2 linked regions of the Homo sapiens genome follow. The protein of the gene in region 1 purifies or fractionates together with the protein of each later gene. This does not show direct contact. Each region holds a gene or a part of one and is shown in the gene's direction. Other genes may lie near its edges.

Region 1 (8,237 bases):
AGTTAGAACCACATTTCCTGAATAGCAACATGTAGATTTAATAGCTTTTTAAAAAGCCCATTACCAACCAAATGTAGTTATGTCTCTTTCATCTACATTGCTCAGTATTAAATTAGTTTCCCCTACAAAATCCTTAAAGGAAATTGACTGATTTGGATGAAATTTAGTATGTGCCTAAATGCACATCAAGATATCTCAATGGAAACAAAGTGGCAGCCCATCAAGGTTTAGTAAAGAAACATACCTAAGGTAGTTTTGAGGAGTTGTTTTAAGAATCACCATGTTGGTAGAGATGTGATTACTGGGAATTTTGTGAGTTGCATACCCCAGAGGTAATGAAGGTTTATATATATATAATGTTTCTTACCATATATAAGGTTTCTTGAATGGAATGAGCTAACATACTTTGGAAAGTAAAATTGTTTGGGTGTTTATCATGATCATGGAGGAGAACAGAAGTGGAGTGCTTCCAAGGGACACATACAGTCTTGGGGGGAAGTGGGTGCAGAGGCGAGCTGGGAAGGGAGGGAGCAGGTTCTCCCCAGCCTGCCTCCCCATGCACTGCTAGGTCATGGTCTAGGTCAGCTTATACGCTGAGGTGGGAGGTAGCATCTGTGGGGGGAGGTGTCCAGGGCCATGGTCAGCCTGAAATGGCCCCAAGGGCCCCTCTCCATTGCTGCCAAGGGGCTGGCTCTTTCTTCCCCTACCCGTTCTAGATCACAGAGGTGGCACTCCAGCCTGCCTTGTTCTTTCATCCCAGTTCCCTCTTGAGTCTGTCTCCATCCTGCTTAGTCTGGAAGCAGAGGAAGACCTCGCCATCCCCTGCCTACCTCAGCTCCCTAGTCCTGCCTCTTCACTCGTGGAGATAGTGGAGCACCTGGGGCAGTCCTCTCCTCCGAGTCCTCATAACTGTCCCCACAGCCAACCAACTGCCCTCATCCCTGCCCTTCTTCTGACCCCTTCCCGGCCATTCTAGTGACCAGGGCTGACACCCTTGCTGCTTTCTGCATCTAGTCCCCTCCCTGAACTCAGAGCTGCCCCCCATCGGGCATCCCCCTCTCTCTCCTCTGGCTCCAGTCCCTGTCCCTCCTTCCCCTCTACGAGTTCTCCCACATCTTGGAGAAGCCACTTCTCTTGCTTCCCATCCCTCCTTTCCTGTCATCCTCACTCTCTTCTTCCTGTGACAGCCCCACTCCTGGAATGTCATTCATACTTGCTGTCTCCACACCTGGCTTCCTGTTTTTCTCTCTGGGTATTTATGAACCTGCTGTTCCTTCTATGCTGTAAGCCCTTCCATGCATCCTCACCTGGCGAGGGCCTTCTCATGTTTTAATTCTCACTTCAGACCTCACCTCCTCTGAAAAGGTCTCCGTGACTGCAGCCTGGGTTAGGACTGCTTTTCTGTGCAGGCTTAGCCTCCTGTTCCCACCTGTGTCACGCCACTGGTAATAACAATAGTAACATGAAGAGACCACTGAGCACTGTTGGACCGGGTGTAGTGTAGTGCTGTTACTGTTAGTATTAACCTAATACTATAGCAAGGTTCTCGTCCTCGAGAGAACCCTGAGAGAGCTTTTCATCCTGATTCCCTACATGAGGACACTGAAGCACAGAGAGGTTAAGTAACTTGCCCTGGGTCACACAGCCAATAAGTGGCTGGACTGTAGTATTTGACCCCAACCATGTTCCCCAAGAGCCTGCACTGTTTATCTCAGTGCCGCAGCCCTGTGGTTCTCACTAGGGCCATCAGAATCACCTGGGGGGCTTGTGAAAACATAGACCACTGCCCCCACTCTCAGAGTTCCAGGTTCCATAGGTCTGGGGTACAACCTGGCATTTGGCATTTCTGATGAGCTTACAGGTGATGTTGATGCTACCAGTCCGTGGACCACACTTTGCAAACCACTGTTCCAGGCTGTTTATCACTTTGTCTGCTGGAATCCTCTTTTTACTTGTCTCTCTCCCAGCTGAGATGGTAGTTCCTCTAGGACAGGCTGGAGTGCAGTGGCTCAGTCATGGCTCACTGCAGCCACAACTTCCCAGGCTCAGGTGATTCTCCCACCTCAGCCTTCCTAGTAGCATGGACTACAGGCATGCACCACCACGCTTGGCTGATTTTGTGTATTTTTGGTAGAGACGGGGGTTTCGCCATGTTGCCTAGGCTTGTCTCCAACTCCTGAGCTCAAGCGATTCACCTGCCTTAGCCTCCCAAAGTGCTGGGATTACAGGCATGAGCCACCGCACCCGGCCAGGAGCTTTTTTTTTCGGTCCATGTTCTCAATACCTAGCAAAGTAGTTCTGCCAGGTGGTAGGCCATCAATAAAGGTTTAGTTGAATGAGTGAATGAATGAATGAATGAATGAATGAGGAAATGTTTCTGGCCCTTTGTTTAAGTGTATTTTTCTTTGCCCAAAGTTTCTGTGTATTTCAAGAAGAATTCTCAGATTTTTATCAGCCTCCTATGTGCTTGATTGCAATGTTTCTGGCCCTTTGCTTAAGTGTATTTTTCTTTGCCCAAAGTCTCTGTGTATTTCAAGAAGAATTCTCAGACTTTTATCAGTCTCCTATGTGTTCGATTGGCGCGTAAGAGATGTGTACTTAACGGTTTTGTAAGATTAATTGCTGACTGCGTGATTTAAAAATACTTTGAAGCCAAAAGTCACATCTGTTATATTTGGTTCAGTGTTCTTTCTGGAGTGGAACACTCACTGTCTGTATATAATATAGACTTCATATTTGTACATATATGAACATATATGTTACATATGTATATCATAAAGTGAGTCTTTGTTCTTTTAGCAGATTTCTTTCCTAAAATAGCACCTTCCTTGATGTGCAGTGTCTTCATCATCAATGTGCTAGCATAGAGGCATTGTGGGACATTCATTCACCAGCATTAGAGCTTCCTCAATTCCTACATGGAGTAGAGCAGGGGAGGGGACTACTCTAGCTCAGCCTGTTGGCTCTGTGTCACCTACAGCCAGGCCTTGAATAGGAGCAAGACATTTCTGATGGCTTGAGAACTTTTGTTGTGTCTAGCAGTTAACATTTGACTTAATGGTATTTTCACGTTACTTTTCTTTGAAATAAAAAATTATATTTTACATTGTATACCAATTATATGACTACATTGTATTATAATAGGTTATATATGATGCTCTGCAAAACCTGGATAAGAAGATTGATGTGATTCGTAGAAAGGTTTCAAAAATCCAACGTTTCCATGCGAGATCCCTGTGGACAAATCATGTAAGTGTTATAAAAAACATTTTTACAACTGTGATAAACCTCTGGTTTGTAAAGATGCCAATGAGCTAGAAGTGAGAGAGTACCAGTATCTGTGTGAGATTAGCAAGGCATGTCTATACTTGTAACAGTAGATGGAGACTAAACTCTGTTGGGAGAACGCTGAAGTTTAGGTTTGATAATTTATGATGCTGCCTATTTTTATGTTTGTAATTATAATGTGTAAAATACAATTAAAATGTAGGATTGAAGAATTATATAATCAAAAGGGACCATTTATTTTTAATAATGTAAAGCAATGTTGCATGGAAAATAAGTATTAATGTATTTGCTACTAATTTTATTTACTTTTTTACTCACTGTTGGTTTATGCTGTGTTTGTGTGATTTCAGAAGCGATATGGATATAAAAAGCATTCTTACCGGCTTGTTAAAAAGCTTAAACTCCAGAAAATGAAGAAAAATGAGGTTTACGAGACATTCTCCTACCCTGAAAGTTACAGCCCCACTTTACCAGTGTCAAGGCGTGAGAATAATTCCCCGAGCAACCTTCCAAGGCCATCCTTTTGCATGGAAGAATACCAGCGAGCTGAGCTGGAGGAGGACCCGATCCTCAGCCGCACTCCGAGTCCAGTGCATCCCTCAGATTTCTCTGAGCATAATTGTCAGCCGTATTATGCATCTGATGGTGCAACGTATGGTTCTTCTTCAGGGCTCTGCCTTGGCAACCCTCGGGCTGACAGCATCCACAACACTTACTCAACTGACCATGCTTCTGCAGCACCACCTTCAGGTATGCTGGCCCAGGGAGAGCCCAATTTGGTACATGCCCCTGAGATGATGAGTTACTCAGCTTTGATGGAGAATAGGTATACTGGATCATCTCTCTGCTTCCCTTCTGGTTTGGTGAGTTTGAAATGCCATATTTACAAGTAGCACTATTTGACCTATATTTATCAACATCCTTGATGCAAACTAGTGGAAGCTGTTCGTTTCCTATTTTGAGGGCTGGTTTTAGGTGATATTCAGAATGATGACTAACATTTATTCAATGCATATTATGTGCAAGGCACTGCACCAATCAGCTGACATGCCTCTTCTCCACTTATACTCATAATGACCCCATGGTTTTGGCACATTTATTACGCCATCCCCACGATCACAGAGCTGGTGAGTAGCACTTCTAGAACTCTGCCCCATTGTGCTTTTCCAAATCTTCTATTTTTATTTACCCTTTCCCTAGATAAATAAAAAACACTCCTGATATGGCAAGAGCCCAGATGGTAGGGAAGAAAGGGTATGTTTTTGGCTAATTCACACACACAAAAAGATCAAATTGTGTTGATGGTCCTGGTTGGAGAAACAAATTTTCCTAACTAATTACAAAACCCACTTTAGTCATCACACACTAATTTTAGGGAGTCTAACACTGTGGGTGAGTAAAAGGATACTTGTCAGTACACAAAGAAATTTCAACACAACTTAGTGTAGAGCATAGCTAAAACTTTCTGAAGTATGAGCAGTTAAACTGTCTCATATCTCAGTTATTTTTTAAACATATAAACCTTTGACCAAAATCTCTATTACTATGCAATTAAACATGAAAGAGGAATTAAATAAAATGTTAGTTACTTCTGACCTAGTTCAGCAGAAAATAATCTTGTTTTCTTCACAATGCACATTAGCACTTAAGCCACGAGAGACAGGAATCTAAAAAGTAAAGCGATACTAAAAATAACCTTATTGAATACGTGGGGAAGATTTGATAAAAGTACTAATTTGGTTCTTAAAGATAATGGGGTTGTTATTGAGATTCATTGATTAAAAGGAACAAATTTAAGCAATTATAAAACTGTAAATTTGGAGAATTTCCATTATATTTTGCTAGTAAAATTAACCTAATCTAGATAGATTAAGAGAGAAATTCCTTGAAATACTTGAAGAGAGTCATAGGTTAGGTTAGATTAACCTAATTTTACCCAAGTGACAGATCTTTTGCCATATTTGCCTGTGGCCAAAGAAGACTTGGTTTACTTAGTCTGTTTTGTGATCTTTGAAACTTTAATGTAACTTCTGAACCAGCTTTTGCTATTTAGGGGAGGTCAGATGGGACACTCTTGTGTAGGCATCCCCACATCATCTTTATATAGGCTTTCACTAGATTTTACAGTTGGAGTCTTGACTCCTTGCTAGGAACATCACAGAAGGTTCCAACAAAGAGAGCATTCCTCCTTACCTAACATCTCTTCTTTCAGGATAATGATCAGGTCGAGTGTGATTTGTCTTTTTTTTCTTTTCCCCCTCTCCATTGAAGTTACAAGGTCACCAGTTGAAAATGACGGTTACATAGAGGAAGGAAGCATCACTAAGCACCCTTCAACCTGGTCGGTGGAAGCAGTGGTCCTATTTCTAAAACAAACAGATCCTCTTGCATTATGCCCTCTTGTCGACCTCTTCAGAAGCCATGTAATGTATCTTTTGATCCTGTTTTCCTGCTGTAATGCCTTTGAATGACCTCTGTGCAGGTCTTTCAGTTGGATACTGTGTGAATGGTGGGAGAACCCTATTAGCTGATTTTTCCATATATGAGAAAGCTTATTTTGCCCAAGGTTAGCCTTAAATGGTAGGCTAATGGTCTGTTCTTTAAATGGGTGTAGAAGTGCCTAAAATACAAACTGCCTCAGCTTCTTAAGACATGATGATTCAGCATGGCCACTCAGGTGTACCTCCCCTTTGTAATGACAGATACAAAGATCCTCCCCCTATCTGCTCCCAGCTGGGCACCAGGACCACGAGGAGGAGGGGGTAACCACAAGCTATAACAGGGTGGCCTTCGTTTTATATAACCAGTGATTCAACAACTGATTCCATTTGCCTCGATTATTGATGATTTGTAATGCTAATACCCTCTTGCTATTATCAGACCATTTACAAAGTAATATCCTAGGCCGAAGTTTTGTAAGTTCTAGTTTCTTTAATTTTGAGTTTTACTTAGTAGAAAAAGTATAGAAGGTGCCAAACAAAGGTTGTACTATAAGGGATTTCAGACCTTTTCAGATAGTGTTAAATGAGTAAATAAAATTTTATTTTTTAACTGGAACATATAAAACCAAATCATATGCTTCAGCAGCATAAGTTGATCAATTAAGATAAGGAATTTTAGGAGAATGCTTTGTGACTATGTTTTATTTATTCAGATATTTTCACAGTGTGTCCTAACAAAATTAGTAGCCACATATCTGATTTTTAATATAGTAAGAAAATTGGTGATTAGTTTTAGCATCTAATTAGTTTCAGACAACTAATTGGCATTCATCATAAAGACAACATTGTATAGACATTTACAGTTTGCACTGATGTTGACGTACTCATCTTCCCAGCCCTTCTCAGAAAGTTAATGAACATCTGAAATTCATTTTTACTATTCATAGTCTTTACTATTTTGTCATGGATGTGTAGTATTTTATTCAACATACAGTATATATTTAAAATTAAGTTTGACACAGTTTATTTTTTAAGATATTATGTTAAATTTCCTTTTTCTCAGAACTTGAAATGAGTTTATACATTACCAAACGGTGCTTCACTGTACAAGTTATATTTTTAATAGTTTTCATAAAGTAGACGCATATTCAGAGAATATACATCTGCAATGAGCTGCTCTCTAGTTTGCTTTACATGTTCTCATAAAGAACTAACCATTCTGATGAAAATATGGAAGCATTATTAATTATCGTTAAGTTTCTTCTCTCCATAGGAAATTGACGGGAAGGCTCTGCTCCTACTCACGAGTGACGTGTTGCTGAAGCACTTGGGGGTGAAGCTGGGAACGGCTGTGAAGCTATGCTACTACATTGACCGACTTAAACAAGGAAAATGCTTTGAAAATTGAAAAAATCCTTGTGCAAATTTAGATTGGGCCAACTTCTAGAGGCACCAATGCCTTCTTAGTGTGGAATCATTTTTCTGCCCTTTAGTCGTTTTTGTTTTGTAGAAAGTATCTCTCAAAATATATTATAGCTAGAATTGTAGAACTATGTTATAGTCCAGTCTACTTCTTTAAAAACCATTTAAACTGCTAGATAGTATTAGAATAGTCCAATAGAAAATTCATTCTTTATAGGTCTTTAAAAATTACTTTTATTATATTGTTTACAAATATATTTCATGCAAGAAACAGAAAAAAAAAAAAACCCTTTGATTCTGGTTCATCTCGATACAGAGAACCAAAACAGCTAAGAGAGGTATTATCAGGGTTGACAACTCCTATGATTGAATCTATGGGAATTATTCCTCAGAAGAGAATTTAAAGGTGTACCCATATATATCTCTTTCTGGAGTATTTTATCTGTCTGATGTTGCAGTATTCTACAAGTTTCCAGAAAGAGAATAGCCATATAAATTATTTTCCTTTCTGCTATTATTTCTCTATATGTTTTATTTATTCAGATTTAGAGTAAAAAATAAGCATATAAACTTTTATTATGTGCTCTTAACAGTTTTAAGATAAACTATAGGATAGATAGAATGGTTATTTTATGCAAGAAATATTGTACCGCAAGGGTGGTTTGGATGAAGTCTGACTACTTTTTTTCAAACAAACTATTATATTAAAACTGTCATATTTTGGCTAAGTTTGGACCTATAACTACACTTTCATTGTTTGCATCTCTCTATGAAGATACGTCTGTCCAAACTTTTAAAAGGCATAACTGTATTTTATGTGTTTATTCTTTATATAGATAGTATTTTATATTTTATTCTCACCCGAAGTATTCACACAATCTTTTTAAAAAAAATTTGAAATGGCATTTTGTATTGCCACAGAGGTAGGATGAGCCATATATTAGTGAAATGTTTTATTTTGTAAAATATAAATGGATTATTTGCCATCATTAGTACCTCTCAACTTACTTTTTAGAGGACAAGAAACAATCTGTAGATTGGTTTCCATACAGGGAAGTTCTCCGTCCTATGCAATGTTTCTAATTA
Region 2 (8,237 bases), on another chromosome or scaffold:
AAGTCTGAAGAGGGAAGCCCGGGTAGGCCTTCTGCTCCCTGAGAGGGTTCCTCCTCTCCCCTCCACACCCCCTACGCCGGCTCTGACTCCCGGGACCTGCAAAGGAGCTTCCGGAGCTTTAATGGAAGTCTTCTCTGCCTCCGAGGCGCACGTGATGGGAGGGATAGAGACAGGCCCTGCCCACTAATGGATGCTGGAGGAGATCTCTAAGGAAAACGGGATCCTCCCCCTCTCAGCATTGAGGTGGGGGGAGGCATAGGCAGTTTGTCCTCTGCTCAGAGCAGTGCTGGGTTCAGTAACAGGCAGGGAAACTGAGCAGAGGAGAGACCAGCCAAGACCCTCTGTGGTGGGAGGCAGGTCTCCCACACACCTGCTACCTGGGCAACTAGGCCCCTGCCTGTCCTACGGCCCTGGTGTGGCCCCCAGGGTCTGGCCCTCAGAGGTGGAGGGACCAGTTTTTGGGAAATCCATGGTCACAGTGTGTCTGATGACCCCAAGCTGAGCTTGGGGAAGCTGAGGTGGATGACAGTCAGCCCTGCTCTCCCACCCCAAGTTTGCTCCCCCAGCTTGGCTTTTTGGCATCTCTGCCTGGGGCCACGCCCTGGCAGGTGCACTGCTGTGTGGAGAAGTAAGCTCCAGGTCTTGGAGACTGGTCAGAGGCTGTGGCACCAAGGGAAAGGGCATTTTGTGGTGGCCAAGGGCTTGCTGCCTGGTGAGAGATGCCAGCCTGGCTTGTCCTGGACTCTACCTGGGAGGGCCATAATGGGGATGGAGAAGATTCATTCATTCATCCATCGGACAGCAGCCACCTCCTGCCCTCTGGGAGCCTGGCCTGCAGGTGTGGGATCCAGGTGTGCAATCTCACCTTAACTCATTCTCTGTGTGTGCTAGCCAGGCCTTGGACAGGGGAGGGGCCTGCCCCTGCAGTCTGTTCTTCAGGACACAGACCGTGGTGCATCTGTGAAGTCCGGTGGTTTGGGTAGATAAGTAATATGGGACCAGGGCCCAGCCACCTGTGCCCCAGCATCCCTCTGTGTGTTGGTCCAATCTTGCTTTTCTGCTCCCTGTGTTCCTTGCATTTTGCCACAAAAGTGAGACTGATGCTACCCAGCACGTCCCACGACCCCAGCCCCCTCTGTCCTTCTCACCTCCTTGTGAAGAAGCTGAGCCGAAGGTGCGTGATGGGGCCCAGAGCCCCTATGCTGGGCTCAGCCCTGTGTTCCCGGGACCCTCTTGTGAGCAGGGGTAGGTGGTCTACCTCCCTGGTCACTCTGGCCCCTCCCACAAGCCCAAGGGAGCTCATGGGAAACCCCAGGCCTGGGCAGCAGCCTGTTTCTGGGCCAGTCCTGGGGGCCCCAGACCTGGTGCACCAGAGATTGAAGAGCCAAGGGAGGGATGAGTGCTGGGAGGCCGGGCGGGGTGCAAGAGGAGCAAGGATGGGGCCCCAGCTGGGGAGGGGGTGATGAGAGACGACTGACAGGATGCAGCATGTGGGATTGGGCTGGAGGTGGGGTGTTCAGGGTAGAGCCCATGTCTAGGGTACAGAGGGGAGCAGCCCAGAGTTGGGTCTGAGGCAGAGGCTGTGTGGGGCTGCAGGGCCAGGGTCCCTGAGAGTGGGCCAGCCTGGGCAGGTGCACGTCAGACATGGACACTGGGGCCAGACAGGGATCCAGGGACTGCAGCCAACTCCTGTTGAGAGTCAGCCCACCATTCCACAGCCCCACCCTAAAGATGTTGCAGAGAGCTGAGCCACCAGCTGGCTATGGGCCTCTCACTACTCTACACCTCAGTTTCTCCATCTGCCAGCCAGCTCTGAGACTCCCAGAGTGGATGCTGGGCAGATGATTGGCAGAGTTGGTGGCCCCTGTCCCTGTGTGTTGAGACTCTGTGAGGCCCTGCATGGATAAGGGTCTCCGATACACGGTGGAGGACGGGAGGATGTGTGCTCACGAGTGTGCCTCTGGGAACAGTGGGCGCCGTGCCCTTGGGGTGCTGTTAGAGCACACGGGTTGATGTGCTCGGCCTGTGCCGGGCTGGGTACTTGCACACGTGTATGTACATGCATGTGTCCCTGTCTGAGGGGTCATGTATATGCATGTGTGTGTGCCTGGGCATGTGTAGCAGGGGCCGGGCTTTCCTGTGATCACTGGCTGACTCATGCACCTGCCACCCGGGTGAAGTCATCCCTCGTTTTTAGCTCCCTGAGGTCATTTGCCAGCAGGGACTCTTGGGGCCTCTGGATCCTACTGCGGGGCTGCTAGGCCGGGGCTGATGGGTGGTGCCGCAGGGTTGCCAGGTCTTGCTGCGGGGGCGTGGCTCTCCTGGACCACCCCAGCTCTGCCTGTCAGACCCTCACCACAGCCTTGGTGGGAGGGATAAGCTGGGCCACAGAGTGGCATCGGGGTCCTGAGATGTCCTCCCCTTTTCCTCTCCCGCTTACCCCCACTGCCTAGCTAGGGAAGAGGGGGTTTTTCTCTGAGTTTTTAATAGATGTAAATATATACATATATGAGGGGCTACATCCCACTGGCAGAGTCCTGGGTAACGTTTCCTCAGTCTTGCTTTATACCCTCCTCACTCTGTCGCCAGAACTGCAGCCCCTCAGTGCCTGGGCCCCTGCTTGAACTCAGATGAGCCCCGCCCAGGGCCCAGCAGAGAGAGCTCAGGGCCTGACACACATTTGCCAGATACAGATGGGGCAGCCCAGCCCCAGCAGTGATGGGCCACACAAGCCTTCTCCTGCTTCAGAGCAGTCCCAGCTCCCCAGTGCCTTTGGAGAAGAGCCCAGCCTGCCCTGCCTGGCAGCGTGCCAGTTGTCCCCACTCTAGGCCTCAGTCTATTTCTTTTTCCCAGGGAACAGGTCCCCTTTTCCTAGCCAGGTCCACAGCAGGCATTCCACCTACATCTCAAGACTGAGGGCGAGATGAGGCCCAAAGCCTTCCTTGCCAGATTGCCTTCTCTGGGGGTGCTTGAAATCCCACTTGGACTGTGAAGTTCTAGGTAAATCCTCTTCCCCCTGCCAGGCCTCAGTTTCCCCATCTATAAAGTTATCTGTCATCCTCCAAGACCCTGCCTGTGGGAGAGGGGGAGGTGCCTTCTGTGGCCACTTCTTTCCTCTGTCAGCCTGAGGGATACACCTGTCCTAACATGTTGGTGCAGGCCCCTTCCTGGACACCTGCACTGCATGCATTTGGGGGTCAAGTATTCCCCCAGGATAGGACCCTGACCTGGGGAGGCTTCCCAGCCCACGAGCCTTGGCAGGCAGGTCCTGAGGGCAGCGCTGAGCATCTAACCTGGCTCACCTCCCAGGCCCAAGAATGGGCAGAGTCTGCCTCTGGAGCCTGGCAGAGCTTAGTGTCTGTGCAGGCCCCAGGGGGCCCAGGCAAGGGACCCATTGTGCAGGGACCAGGGGCCTGGGCCACAAAGCAGGACCTGTCCTCCTGCTGACCCTGCCCTGGCTGCCTGGGAATGTGCTCCGCCTGACCCACCCACCAGGGCTTGGGTTTCAGCTCCTGCCCATCCTGGCTAGATGCCGATCCCCGGATGTTGGTGCCATGTGGCCCTGGGGCCAGGCACCTGTGCAGTCAGAGGCCCGGGGCAGGCTGTGAGTCTTAGGTCCTCAAGCCACTCAGCGCGGCAGGGGTTGGGCCTGGCTCTGATGTGGGCCAGCCTATCCTCTTTGAGCCTCAGTTTCCCCACTGGCAAGTCCAGTCAGTAGGCATGTGGATAGAAAAGTCTCAGTCCAGAGTTGTCTTGCCTAGAATTCCAGTGTCGTCACCCCATGCAGAATGGTGGCAAGGGCACCCATAGGCTCAAATCTACTGTGTCTGGTCTCTGATATGATGCCCAGAGTCTCAGTCACTGGGGGCGCCAGCCACTGGCCCGAGGTAGGGCAAACCTGTGCCTACACAACACTCAAGAATGTCTGGGCTGGAAGGAATAAGGACATACTGGTGCTGCAGGTGCATGGGGTGTTCTGGGAACTGCGTATTTCTGTCCCTTGAGGGCGTCTGGCTGGCGTTGGTGGCGGGAACCTTAGTGTGGCCACAGGAGTCAGTAGGCAGTGCTGAAACAGCCCCCACAAGGCTTCTATACTCAAGGTGTCTGGGGCAGGTGAGGGAGGAGGCCCCAGGACACCATGATGTCCCAGCTAGGGGTGGTGGTTGACATCAGGAAGGCATGCTGCAGGTCTCACTGGCACCTCCTGGGGCCTGGAGGAGCCTGTGGCAGCCAGGCCATGCAGCTTGGGGAGGGCCCTGAAGACTTCACCCCCCAGGGTCTATGTCCTTATCTGCCAACTCAGCCTGAGGAGACCTGAGATGGGGGTCCAGCCCCAGGGTCCCCCCAGGATGGGGTGCCGGGGCAGGGTTAGCACCTCGATGTTCAGAGGGCAAGAACTTATTGCTGTCCTTGTCAGCTTGGGCCGAAACAGGCCTTGGGGTGGGTGGGTTCAGGACCAGGAGGAAGGCACCCTGGTGTGCTGGCCAGCATGAGCTGAGGCAGAGCTGCTGTGTGTGGAGACCTGCACTCCAGGGGTGACTGAGCAGCAGGCCTGCCCACCAATGTCCCTCCTTGCCCCAGGAGCAGAGCCCAGGCAGCCAGGCCTCACTGGCCACGATGCCGGAGGCACCTGATGTGCTGGAGGAGACCGTGACGGTGGAGGAGGACCCCGGCACACCCACTTCCCATGTGTCTATTGTCACATCCGAAGATGGCACAACCCGGCGCACCGAGACCAAGGTATGGCCAGGCCCAGGCAGTGGGTGGGTGAGCAGGGCCAGGCTGCTGCAGCTGTCCCACCTGCAGAGTGGACATGGAAGCTTGCCACGTGGGGCCTCTCATTGCTCGAGTGGGAAATTAAGGCCAGCCAGACCCCAGCAAAGCAGTTTCTAGGCCTCTCGTGCTACCCCACCTACCTGCCTATCCATCCACCAGGTCACCAAGACTGTCAAGACGGTGACCACTCGGACAGTACGCCAGGTGCCCGTGGGCCCAGATGGACTCCCCCTGCTGGATGGCGGCCCCCCACTAGGCCCTTTTGCAGATGGTGCCCTGGACCGGCATTTCCTGCTGCGTGGTGGTGGCCCAGTGGCCACACTCTCTCGAGCCTACCTCAGCAGTGGGGGTGGCTTTCCCGAAGGCCCCGAGCCCCGGGACAGCCCCAGCTATGGCAGCCTGTCCCGAGGGCTGGGCATGCGGCCCCCACGTGCTGGCCCCCTTGGCCCAGGCCCTGGTGATGGCTGCTTCACACTGCCTGGCCACCGGGAAGCCTTCCCGGTGGGTCCTGAGCCTGGGCCACCAGGTGGCCGCTCCCTGCCCGAGCGCTTCCAGGCAGAGCCGTATGGCTTGGAGGATGACACGCGCAGCCTGGCCGCTGATGACGAGGGTGGCCCTGAGCTGGAGCCTGACTATGGCACGGCCACAAGGAGGAGGCCTGAGTGTGGGCGGGGCCTTCATACCAGGTGAGCTGCACCCCGTCCCCTGTGGCTACCTCCTCTGGGAAGTCTGCCCTCCACCCCCCAACTACAGAGTGCCCCACTTGTCAAGTGGCGCAGTTGAGTTAGTCATGCATGTTAGTTTGAATTGGCCTTGGCTCTCGTCAGGGACAGAAGAAAGGTGGACCCTGGGGTGGTAGGAGTTCGGCTGGGCACTGTCCTGCAGGCCCAGGGCCCAGGAAAGCTGGGAAGAGTGCCGGCCACTGGCCTTGCTCCAGCCACACTCTGGGTAACCAGAACCCAGAGCCCTGGCCCTTGTCACAGCCCCTGGTTCTGTCCCCATTGCCCTCAGTTTCTGCATCTCTGGAGTGGGGATGTGACCACAGCCCGGGTCAGGATTTTGTTGTGTGACCCTGGCCAAGTCACCTGACCGTCACTCCTAGCCTCAGGGCAGGCGGTTTGATGACAGCAACCCACAGGGCTACTGAGAGCTAAGGAGATCTTGTGCCCCAAGGGGCTGGTGGCCTGAATACTCCTCAGGTGGTCCTACTGGGATGGCTTCATGCGGAGAGGGCCATTTACTCCCCCTACATCCTGGCACAGCCAGAGATGGGCCTCATGGAAGATGGGGTGGTTTTGTGGAAGGGAGGTGAGACGGTCTCTCCAGCAGCCATAGCAGATGTCTCACAGAAACTTGTTTTGCTCGGGATTGGGAAACTGCCCGGTGACAGCAGTGAGTGAGTTTGCTGTCCTGGGAGGGTTGCCTGGGTCCTGGTAGCCGCTGGCTGGGGTTTGGCATTTGGCTCTGAATTGGTTCTCACTGGGCTGGTGCATGACTCTCTGTGTCCCCACCATGCTCCGGGCCAAGATACAGGTGCTCTCAGCCCAGCGCTGCTGGGTGAGTTTGCAGTCCTGAAGAAGGTGTGATGGGGCAGCTCAGAGGCAGGGCTGGCGGCTGCTGTGACGATGTCCACGCGCCCCACTTGCCTGTGCAGGGCCTACGAGGACACAGCAGATGATGGCGGCGAGCTGGCGGACGAGCGGCCTGCGTTCCCAATGGTGACGGCGCCCCTGGCCCAGCCTGAACGGGGCAGCATGGGCAGCCTGGACCGGCTGGTGCGGCGCTCGCCCTCAGTGGATAGCGCCCGCAAGGAGCCGCGCTGGCGGGACCCTGAGCTGCCTGAGGTGCTGGCCATGCTGCGGCACCCCGTGGACCCCGTGAAGGCCAATGCGGCCGCCTACCTGCAGCATCTGTGCTTTGAGAACGAGGGTGTCAAGCGGCGTGTACGGCAGTTGCGGGGGCTGCCGCTGCTTGTGGCACTGCTGGACCACCCGCGGGCTGAGGTGCGGCGCCGGGCCTGTGGGGCACTGCGCAACCTCTCCTATGGCCGCGACACTGACAACAAGGCCGCCATCCGGGACTGCGGTGGTGTGCCTGCCCTGGTGCGCCTGCTGAGGGCTGCCCGGGACAACGAGGTCCGTGAGCTTGTCACTGGTGAGTGGGACCTGGCCATGCTCACATCCCCTGGGAAGAGAAGAGTGTGAGGCTCAACCCGGGAGGAACGAGGCCACTCGGCCTGCGACCGCCTGGGAAAGCACCCGGTAGGCAGGAGTGCAGCTGCTGAGACGCTTGCCCCAGGAGCCAGGCATCAGGCCCAGACACTGTGACAGGTTCCCCAGTCTCTACCATAGCAGGGAGGCTGACGCTGCGCCCCTCGGGCATGTCCCCTCACCTCCTGCCTTCACACCTCCTGCCCCCACAGAAACTCTCCTGGGACCCACCTCCTTGGTTCCCACCCCAACCGTGCAGTGGTGGGGCTTGTGCCTTGTGAGAGCTGAGGGACAGGTAGGGTCACCGTGTCTCTGTGAGGCCCTGTGGCCTCAGGAGTGTTAGTGCCACCTGCCACATGGCAGGGAATGGGTGGGACGGGACAGCACTGCCACACCCTCCTCTGCACCTCCTCCCCTTTGGGGCTCCTTCCTAGCTGGAAACCAGTACTGGGTGTCCCCCGGAACCACTCACGGCTTTTGTTACTTCCTACTGTTCTGCATGAGCTGGGACATGAGGAGAGTGGGACAGGTCCTGAGCGTGGCCACCTGGGGAGGTAGGCAGGCGGTGCATATGGTCAGCACAGATTGGCCAATCGCACCCCACAGGCACCCTGTGGAACCTGTCATCCTATGAGCCCCTGAAGATGGTCATCATTGACCATGGCCTGCAGACGCTGACCCACGAGGTGATCGTGCCCCACTCAGGATGGGAGCGTGAGCCCAACGAGGACTCCAAGCCACGGGACGCCGAGTGGACAACTGTCTTCAAGAACACGTCGGGCTGCCTGAGGTGTGGACCAGACCTGGTGCTAAAGCCCACATGCACACCAGGCCCCGTCCTCGTGGTCCCAGATAGTGTGGAAGATGGCGGCGAGCTTAGGAGCGCCAGAGCTTAGGAGCTTCAGAGCTGTGGCACAAGTCCTGTGGATGAGAAGTGGGGCCTGATGGAGCTGTCCTCACCCCCAAGTGGTGTCCCAGTCTTCCCAGGGGCACCCTCTGGAGGGGTCTCTGTGGTACCGTAGCCCTGCCCAGCTCTCACCTACCTTCCCATCACTTGACAGCCAGAGGGGGAGCTGGGACCTTCCTGTTCATCTGCCTGGGAGGCTCATCCCAGCCACCTGTGACCTCTGCCCTTCCCCTCCTACCCCTGGGAGGCCCTGCTGACCCCACAGAGTCCTGGGTCCCCACAGTCCTGCTTGTCCATCAGGGTGTTCCCGCGCAGCCCTGCAGGCTCTTGACCTTGGGGTAAGG

Evidence for each region.
Region 2: the proteins of SCML1 (region 1) and ARVCF purify together in Homo sapiens (co-immunoprecipitation; 2 studies listed by BioGRID and IntAct, with this or other methods). This does not show direct contact.

The regions. Positions count from the first base shown.
Region 1 is NC_000023.11:17,746,256-17,754,492, forward strand, and holds part of SCML1 (sex comb on midleg-like protein 1), read left to right. Parts: intron 1-3,144; coding exon 3,145-3,249; intron 3,250-3,638; coding exon 3,639-4,038; intron 4,039-5,559; coding exon 5,560-5,711; intron 5,712-7,002; coding exon 7,003-7,137; 3' UTR 7,138-8,237. UniProt on the Homo sapiens protein: Putative Polycomb group (PcG) protein. PcG proteins act by forming multiprotein complexes, which are required to maintain the transcriptionally repressive state of homeotic genes throughout development.
Region 2 is NC_000022.11:19,978,436-19,986,672, reverse strand, and holds part of ARVCF (splicing regulator ARVCF), read left to right. Parts: exon of another isoform or gene 1-3,000; intron 3,001-4,581; coding exon 4,582-4,740; intron 4,741-4,935; coding exon 4,936-5,462; intron 5,463-6,430; coding exon 6,431-6,930; intron 6,931-6,980; exon of another isoform or gene 6,981-7,281; intron 7,282-7,592; coding exon 7,593-7,776; intron 7,777-8,237. UniProt on the Homo sapiens protein: Contributes to the regulation of alternative splicing of pre-mRNAs.